Linked DNA regions of Homo sapiens: region 2 is linked to region 1. Evidence: fine-mapped expression QTL. A gene starts in region 1. The other region holds a variant in brackets. All regions are shown on one strand. Distances are between the middles of the regions. Region 1 holds the start of RRP12 (ribosomal RNA processing 12 homolog). Region 2 overlaps RRP12 (ribosomal RNA processing 12 homolog).

What was found. PIP is the estimated chance that this variant, and not a neighbour inherited with it, causes the effect. A credible set is the group of variants that fine-mapping cannot tell apart.
Region 2: its variant is the best candidate, but not a certain one, in a credible set for the expression of RRP12 in whole blood (TOPMed, PIP 0.81).

Annotation. Positions count from the first base shown.
Region 1 is chr10:97,399,414-97,403,797 of GRCh38, reverse strand. RRP12 (ribosomal RNA processing 12 homolog) reads left to right here and starts at 2,458. Exons shown (of 34, transcript NM_015179.4): 1 at 2,458-2,705; 2 at 3,264-3,493. The coding sequence starts at 2,567. RefSeq lists an enhancer at 2,925-2,974.
Region 2 is chr10:97,368,739-97,373,122 of GRCh38, reverse strand. RRP12 (ribosomal RNA processing 12 homolog) reads left to right here. Exons shown (of 34, transcript NM_015179.4): 18 at 1-77; 19 at 320-387; 20 at 957-1,050; 21 at 2,042-2,200; 22 at 2,327-2,407; 23 at 2,563-2,668; 24 at 2,849-2,956; 25 at 3,541-3,698. Among named protein-coding and RNA genes, the nearest start is that of RRP12, 30 kb to the left of the region's middle. The variant A/G (reference allele first, on the strand shown) is at 1,890.

The DNA of each region.
Region 1 (4,384 bases):
ATATATTTATTGGCCATTTGGATATTAATTTTTGTGAAGTGCCTGTTCATGACTTTTTTATTTTTTGTACAATACATCATGATGTTCAGCTGTTTGTGTCTTTTGCCATTCTTCTTTTTTTTTATTTTTGAGACACAGTCTCGCTGTGATGCCCAGGCTGGAGTGCAGTGGCACGATCTCAGCTCACTGTAACCTCCACCTCCAGGGTTCAAGTAATTCTCCTGCCTCAGCCTCACAAGTAGCTGGGACTACAGGTGCCCACCACCACGCCCAGCTTAATTTTTTTTGTATTTTAGTAGAGATGGGGTTTTTCACTATGTTGGCCAGGTCTTGAACTCCTGACCTCGTGATCTGCCCACCTTGGCCTCCCAAAATGCTGGGATTACAGGCGTGAGCCACCACACCCAGCCGCCCATTCTTTTTTTTTTTTTTTTTAATTTTTTTTCTTTTTTGAGACAGGGTCTCACACTGTCACCCAAGCTGGGGTGCAGTGGTGCAATCACGGCTCACTGCAGCCTTGACTTTCTCTGGGCTCCCACCTCAGCCTCCTGAGTAGCTGGACTACAGGTTCACACCACCATGCTCAGCTAATTTTTGTATGTTTTGTAGAGACTGGGTCTCATGATGTTGCTCAAGCTGGTCTTGAACTCCTGGGCTGGAGCAATCCTTCCTCCCCTCTACTCCCTGCCCCCCGGCCTCCTACGGTGTTGGAATTCCAGGCCAAGCATCAGCCACTGCACCCACCTGTCCCTTTTGCCCATTCTTTTTATTGGATTGTCTGCCTTGTTCTTATTGATTGGTAGGAATTCTTTATATATTATAGATGTACTTTGTTAGTTCTATATATCTTCTTCCAAAGAATGCTGCTAAAGGTTTAGAATAAAGCTGCTGGGCAAGAGGGAAGAGAAATGTGTCTTTTGTAAGGTTTGGGATCTGGTTGAAGGATTTTAAGGAGGGTCTCAGGGGAGTGGGGATAAACTGGATCGGTTGCTGGTTCTGAGGTGGAATTAGGAGAACTGGGAATTGGCCGGATGCCAGGTGCGGTGGCTCATGCCTGTAATCCCAGCACTTTGGGAGGTGGGCAGATCACCTGAGGAAAGGAGTTCGAGACCAACCTGGCCAACATGGTGAAACTCTGCGTGTACTGAAAATACAAAAAAAAAAATTAGCCGGGCGCGGTGGTGCATGCTTGTAATTTCAGCTACTTGGGAGGCTGAGGCAGGAGAACTGCTTGAACCTGAAATGTGGAGGTTGCAGTGAGCCGAGATCGTGCCACTGCACTCCAGCCTGGGCACCAGAGCAAGACTCTGTCTCAAAAAAAAAAAAAAAAAAGAGAGAGAGAGAGAGAAATTGGAGAACCAGGGATTAATTAGGGATGGAATGCTGTCATAAGGCAAGGTGGCTTAGCAACTGAGTATCTCCAGTAATAAATGAAAATAGCAAAGCTTGTCTAGAACACCACTGACTGCTTTTTTCTCTTTTCAAGTCAAGCTAATTTTCACACTTTCAAGTCTCCATAAGTTTTGACTTTTCTTTTTTTTCTTTTTTTCTTTTTTTGAGATGGAGTTTCACTCTTGTTGCCCAGGCTGGAGTGCAATGGCGTGATCTCAGCTCACCGCAACCTCTGCCTCCCAGGTTCAAGCGATTCTTCTGCCTCAGCCTCCCCAGTAGTTGGGATTACAGGCATGCGCGACCACGCCCGGCTTATTTTGTATTTTTAGTAGAGACAGGGTTTCTCCATGTTGGTCAGGCTGGTCTCGAACATCGTGACCTCAGGTGATCTGCCCGCCTCGGCCTCCCAGAGTGCTGGGATTACATATATACTTTTATATGAAGGTATATGACTTTCATATAAATGTGTTTCTATGCTTAATTTTGAAAATAGATTTTCAAATGTAATATAAATGTACTTTTTGTTGTTGTTTAACTGCAAAAGAACTCCAGTTTTTTGTTTGCTTTGTTTTGTTTTTTTGAGACAGTCTTACTCTGTTGTCCAGGCTGGAGTGCCGAGGCGTGATCTCGGCTTACTGCAAACTCCGCCTCCCGAGTTCAAGTGATTCTTGTGCCTCATCCTCCCGAGTAGTTGGGATTACAGGCGCGCGCCACCAAGCCCAGCTAATTTTTTTATTTTAGTAGAGACGGGGTTTCACCCTGGTGATCAGGCTGGTCTCAAACTCCTGACCTCAAATGATCCACCCGCCTCAGCCTCCCAAAGTATTGGGATTACAGGCATGAGCCACCACGCTCAGCCAAACTCCAGTTTTATAAGGCTTACGCCTGTGGCCCTGAAACCTGGTCCTGGCTGGAGTAAGAACCCCATAGAACCCTTAGCAACCTAACTTCCTCCCTAGCAACGGATCTCCTTGGAGCTCCTCCCCATCCGAAGCCAGGAGGAGGTGTAAAACCGGATGTTGACTGTTTTACCATAGTAATGCACACGAATCCGGAAGTGACGCCAGAAGAAGAGGAAGTGAAGGCTACAGGGTATCCACGTGGGTTCTGAGCGTGTTTCTACGTCCCTGGAAGCCGGTCATTTAAGCTCATTCCTCGCCACGGCTTAGTCAACATGGGTCGCTCGGGAAAGTTGCCTTCTGGTGTCTCAGCTAAGTTGAAGCGCTGGAAGAAAGGCCACAGCAGCGACAGCAACCCCGCCATCTGCCGCCACCGTCAGGCCGCCCGCAGCCGCTTCTTCAGCCGGCCGTCAGGTAGCTGGGTTGAGACCCGAGCGCAGCCGGGGGCGGGGTTCCAGGCAGACCTGGGTCCAGATGAGTCTGGGGCCTCTGGGAGAGTGCGGGGCCAGGCATTGGACCTTTCGTCTCTTAGGATGTCGGATCTGGAGCCCTCTCTGAAGGGCAGTCCTTCCAATTTAGCAGATACAGAAACTGAGGTCCGCAGTAGGGAAATGTCTTGTGTAAGGTACCGCGGGTGTCAGAGTTGAGACAGATGGCTTGGACCTTGGGTAGCTCTTTACAGAGCGCGTTCACCTTCATTTATTTTGCAGGCCCTCTGAATGTAGCTCCCAGCCGATTCCCAGTGGCGTTTATGCCGCTGCTACAGGGAAGCAGAAACTTTTACATGGAGGATTCCCTTTCTCCTTGGTTTTTCAAGTTTTTAGGCATACAGTGGTTTTATGAGACTGGCTGTGTTCAGAATTCAGCCTCTCGGGTTGGAGATTTGGCCTGGGCTGGTTTGTTTCCCAGGGGTTGTTCTGTTCTCTTGACCAAAAGGAGGCTTGGACCTTATCTTGTGCCTCTGGCTCTCAGGAAGGAGTGACCTGACAGTCGATGCTGTGAAGTTACATAATGAGCTGCAGTCAGGGTCCTTGCGCTTGGGCAAAAGCGAAGCCCCGGAGACGCCCATGGAAGAAGAGGCGGAGCTGGTTCTCACCGAGAAGTCCTCGGGTACCTTCCTGAGTGGCCTTTCCGACTGCACAAACGTCACCTTCAGCAAAGTACAGCGCTTCTGGGAGTCCAACTCGGCTGCCCACAAGGAGGTAGGGGCGAGGGTCGGGAGGGCCATAGGATAGTGAGGAGAGGCCAACTCATGCCTTTTCTTCAGCTCTGGCCGACAGGTCTCCGATGACAACAGCTGGTATTTCTGGATGATGCGTCATCGCTCCTCCCCTTTATGTCTCCTCCTAGGGCAGGTTCTACTTTCTGCTTTTTATAAGAACATCTCCTCTGCTTAAGTACTTGAGGGTAGAAATATTTTCCAAACATTTCTCTCCTCAGCTATACCTAACACAGCACTTTTACACAGAGTATTTTCAATAAACATATGTTGAGTAAATAAATGCTGAGTAACAGTGATTAGGAAACGTTTTATCTAGCAAGAACTAAATTTATTTACTTTAATTTAACTTAATTCATGTATTTATTTTGAGACAGAGTCTCGTTCTGTTGGCCAGGCTGGAGTGCAGTAGCGCAATCTTCACTCACTGCAACCTCCATCTCCCAGGCCCAAGCAATCCTCCTGCCTCAGCCTCCCAAGTAGCTGCCATTACAGGCATGTGCCACCACGCCCGGCTAATTTTTTTTTTTTTTTTTTTAGTATATTTAAATAGTGCATTATTCAAGTAGCTAATTTTTTGTGTGTGTGTATTTTTAGTAGAGACGGGGTTTCACCATGTTAGCCAGGCTGGTCTCAAACTCCTGAACTCAGGTAATCCGCCCACCTTGGCCTCCTAAAATGCTGGGATTACAGGCATGAGCCACCGTGCCTGGCCTTACTTTTATTATTTTATCTATACTATAAAGTTATATATATTTTTTGTTATTGAAATAAAAAATGTCAAAATTCTAAATGATATCAAAATGATATAAGAATAATATAATGTGATGGTAGATCCCCCAACTTGAATCATTCACAGAGCTCCTGTTAATGG
Region 2 (4,384 bases), 31 kb after region 1:
CAGCCGGGGACACTCCAGCCCCTCGCCGGGCTGTGCTGGAAACCATCAGAACTTACCTCACCATCACTGACACTCAGGTGAGCCACGGAAGGGAGGGAAGGAGGGAGGAGGGGAGCTCTCAGGTGGGCAGGGTCAGAGAGGCCGAGACCCTACCCACCAGGGCTCACGTGGGTCTCTGTGTTTTGGAGCACATACCAGCAGTCATGGCTTGGGCAGGGCTGGGGGCTGATGGGGAGGCCGCTCTGGGACTGCTGCCATTGCTGCTTTCTTTCGCTCCTCCCCAATGACTCTCTTCTCCTCATTCCCTCGGGGCCACAAGTTGGTGAACAGTCTCCTGGAAAAAGCCAGTGAGAAGGTGCTCGACCCTGCCAGCTCTGACTTTACCAGGTAACATGCTCAGGGCCTCCCACTTGAGCTGGAGCAGCCCAGGGAGCTGGAGGGTGCATCTGGCAGAAGCACTGTGGGTTCCCTCTTGCATTATTTAAGGAAGCCTTGAAGTATTAACTCTCCAGGCTGTGCTGAGAGGCTGTGCTGACTAGTTCCTTCTTCCTGGAGAGGCCATTTAGTCTGGTAGGGAGGAACAAGGACCCAGGAGATACACTGCCCAGGTTCTGATCCCAGCCCCGTCACTCATGGGCTGTGTGACCTTGGACAAATTACTTATCCATTCTGCCTCTAAGGCCTCATCTGTAAAATGGGCACGATAATAGTTCTTGCAACAAGGTTGCTATGAGGATTGAAGGAGTTAGCAGGTGTAAAACACCAGGAACGGTGACTGGTACATCATGAATGCTCAGTTAGGTACTAGCTATTATTATTGTTCATGAGCTCCTTCAAGCCCCTTGTCCTCACCCTGACTTCTCCCACCTCCCCATACCCAGTAGACGTAAGAACACTGGTAGTCTGCGCCCTTCTCCAGCTCCCCATCCCTCTCCTTGTCCTCCTGCCCCGAGCAGATTGTCTGTCCTGGACCTGGTCGTGGCCTTGGCTCCGTGTGCTGACGAAGCTGCCATCAGTAAGCTATACTCCACCATCCGGCCCTACCTAGAGGTGAGCCTCGGGGGCCAGGAGCGCCACACAGCCACGCTTGGGGGCAGATGGGCTGTGGGAAGGTGGGGCCTGTCTTCATGTCTTTGTCCCTTGCTGCTTCCCGAGATCAGGTCCCTGTCTGCTTTCTCCTGCAGTGGCTTCTCTTTGTGTCCTGTGTAGCCCATCTGTCTTGCAGGTCCCAAAGGGACTGAAATGCACAGCTGTGCTTAGGCCTTGCGTGCTGAGTGACTCTTGTAGAACCAAGGCCATGCTCCTTTGCCTGGCTCACTCCCCAGGCCCATCCCAGACCGGCCTGAGCTTTATCCCACCCAGTCCACTCTCTACTTCTGCTGCAGCCTCCTTCAGCTGCCTTAAGCCTCCCTGATATAACAGGCCCTGTCTGTGCCTTTGCAGGGTTTGGGTCCTCAGCTTGAAATGCCCTCTGCTGTGGCCAGCAACCCTGCAGATCTCAGCCCAGCAGTGACCCCCTGAAAGCTGCCCCCATTGCCACAGTTTAGTAGCAGTTACCTAACAGTGTGAGAAGTGCTCTGGGGCAGCACTGCAGGTGGACATGGAAATCCAGGGCCAGGCCACGTCACCTCAGGAAAGGTGTCCGGCGTTGGGGGTTGGGGGAGTGTGACAGAGAGCTGGTTTGGAGGAGCAAGGAGTTGTCAGTCTTGGAAGGAGAGAGAAGAGTGCTCCGGCTAGAAAGAGCAGCAGATGTGCAGGCCTTGGCGCGTGCCAGGCACCATGAGCTCAGGCCACTGGAGTGAGCACTGTCCAGAGCTGGGTGAGTGGAGTGGATTGGTGGGCCCCACGGCACACACCCCCAACCCCTGTGCCTCGCCCAGGAGTTAGCC[A/G]CTCGCTGTCCACATTCCACTGGTCCTCTGTCAAGCCACATGAGCCCCCACGGACCCCTGCTCAGAATCCCTCCAGTGCTGGGGGATGCTCCGTGGATAGCATTGGACAGGGAGTGAGCCCCAGGCCTCCCTCACCGGTTCCTGTCTGCCAGAGCAAGGCCCACGGGGTGCAGAAGAAGGCCTACCGAGTGCTGGAGGAGGTGTGTGCCAGTCCTCAGGGCCCCGGGGCCCTCTTCGTGCAGAGCCACCTGGAGGACCTGAAGAAGACACTGCTGGACTCGCTGCGGAGCACCTCCTCACCCGCCAAGAGGGTGAGGGCTCTAGGGCCACCCGCTCTGCCGAGGGAGCCTGGGCAACACCAGGAAAGGAGCCACTGTTGAGGCTTGTTGGGTGGAGGTAGCATTGAGGGGTCCTGACTGGTAGCCCTTTGCCCACAGCCCCGTTTGAAGTGCCTCCTACACATCGTGAGGAAGCTCTCAGCTGAACACAAGGAGTTCATCACTGCCCTCATCCCAGAGGTGAGTGTGCGGGTGTGTTTTAGAGGGGGGTCCCTGGAATGTGGCTCTTAAGGGCCTCAGGATCCAGGGAGGGCAGTGATGGGAGTGGGAGGACTCGATTCGCTTCCCGGGCAGATGGCTCAGGGAGCAGATGCTGATGGAGTTGTCTTGGCCAGGTGATCCTGTGCACCAAGGAGGTGTCGGTGGGCGCACGGAAGAACGCTTTTGCACTGCTCGTGGAGATGGGCCATGCTTTCCTAAGGTTTGGCTCGAACCAGGAAGGTGAGGCCCAGGGGGCTGGGGGTGGACACTCTGCTCATAGACTGGGTGGGGGGAAGCACCCCTCAAAAAAGGTGGGGAGAGCTCTGTGCCCTGGCCCTGGGCAGGCTGCTCCTCTCTGGCCCTCAGCCCCCCTACCTGGTGGGTCCTTCCTGCTTGACCCACGTTGGTCTCTGTCCCCAGAGGCCCTGCAGTGCTACCTCGTCCTGATCTACCCTGGCCTGGTGGGCGCGGTGACCATGGTCAGCTGCAGCATCCTGGCCCTGACCCACCTCCTTTTCGAGTTTAAAGGTAAATGCTTATTTCCTAGAAGGCCTGAGAAGCCCTCAGATTAGGAAGATGCCCAAAAGGTCAGGATAAAGTGGCTCCTGGAACTGGGAAAAGGTGCCTGGAGGAAGTAAGAAAAGCCACACCCAGCCCAGTTTGCCTCCCTGTCTCCCTTCCTGCGGGTCGCTGCCTCCCGCCCTTGCGGCTATGCCAAGGCACCTTCCTCAGGTCTGTCCCCACGTGTGACTGTGCAGTCCAGTGGCCCTGCATCCCATTGTCAGAGTGGTTAGGAGGTGGTTAGGGCTGATGCCTGGATTTTAGTCCTAGTCCTGCCTCTTGGCAACCACATGAGACCTAGAACAGCTTGATTAGCCTCTTAGCACCTCAGTTTCTTATCTCTAAAATGGAAGCAAGAAATAGCACCCACCTCAGGGTGACGAAAGGACCCAAGACCACTCCATGGAGCGTGATTGGAACCATCCCGGGCATACGGAAAGGCTCTCAATGTCAGCTTTTACTGACACTTGAGTGGCTGTTTTCCAGTGGGGAAGGTTTGGGTCTGAGTGGGGTCCTGGGTGTCTTAGACAGTGACCCCCTCACTGCCACAGGTCTGATGGGGACCAGTACAGTGGAGCAGCTGCTGGAGAATGTGTGCCTGCTTCTGGCCTCCCGCACCCGTGACGTGGTCAAGTCTGCACTGGGCTTCATCAAGGTGGCAGTGACTGTCATGGACGTGGCGCACCTGGCCAAACATGTGCAGCTGGTGGTGAGTGTCCCCGTTCCCCTTAGCAGGTAGCAGGGTGGCCTCTGAGCTGTTGGCATGGACCTGGCAAGCTTCGAGGCCAGCAAGTTTCAAACTATTTTTTTTGTAGCCAGAGGTCATTAAGGAGCCCTAAAAGGGACCATAGGGGAATGCCTGTCAGGTGGAGGCGAGGAGGGGGCACACTGCCCAGGTGGCTTTCTTCACCCCAGAGCCCTACATGGAAAGCAACAGGGGCTCTTCAGGGCAAAGGCCCATGGGCAGGGCCACTCCTCATTTTACAGATGGAGAAACTGGGCCAGAGATTTTCCAGATCATGGGACTCAGACGCTGGGCTCTCCCTCCACAGGACCCCCTCATCTTGCCTTTTTTTTTTTCCCATCTTGCATTTTGACCTTGCTGGTTAGAGGCCATTCCTTTGGGTCCCCTGCTGGGCTGCAGAAGGATCTGAAGAGCCCCTTGGTATAGGGTCCCTGGCCCTCTCCTGCCCAAGAGAAGCCTTGCCCAGGCTGGCGTAGGCTTCCAGCCAAGCTGTGCACTGTACCTACTGCCTCAGTTTCCCATGTGTGACTGGCTTGAGTCACATCAGACCTCTGGGTCCCTCTTGCATATTTTCTTTGGGTCTGGCCTTGGGTTCAAGATAGGAAGGGACAGATGAGAATCAGCATGCCCTCCCGCTGCCCTCGGAGCCT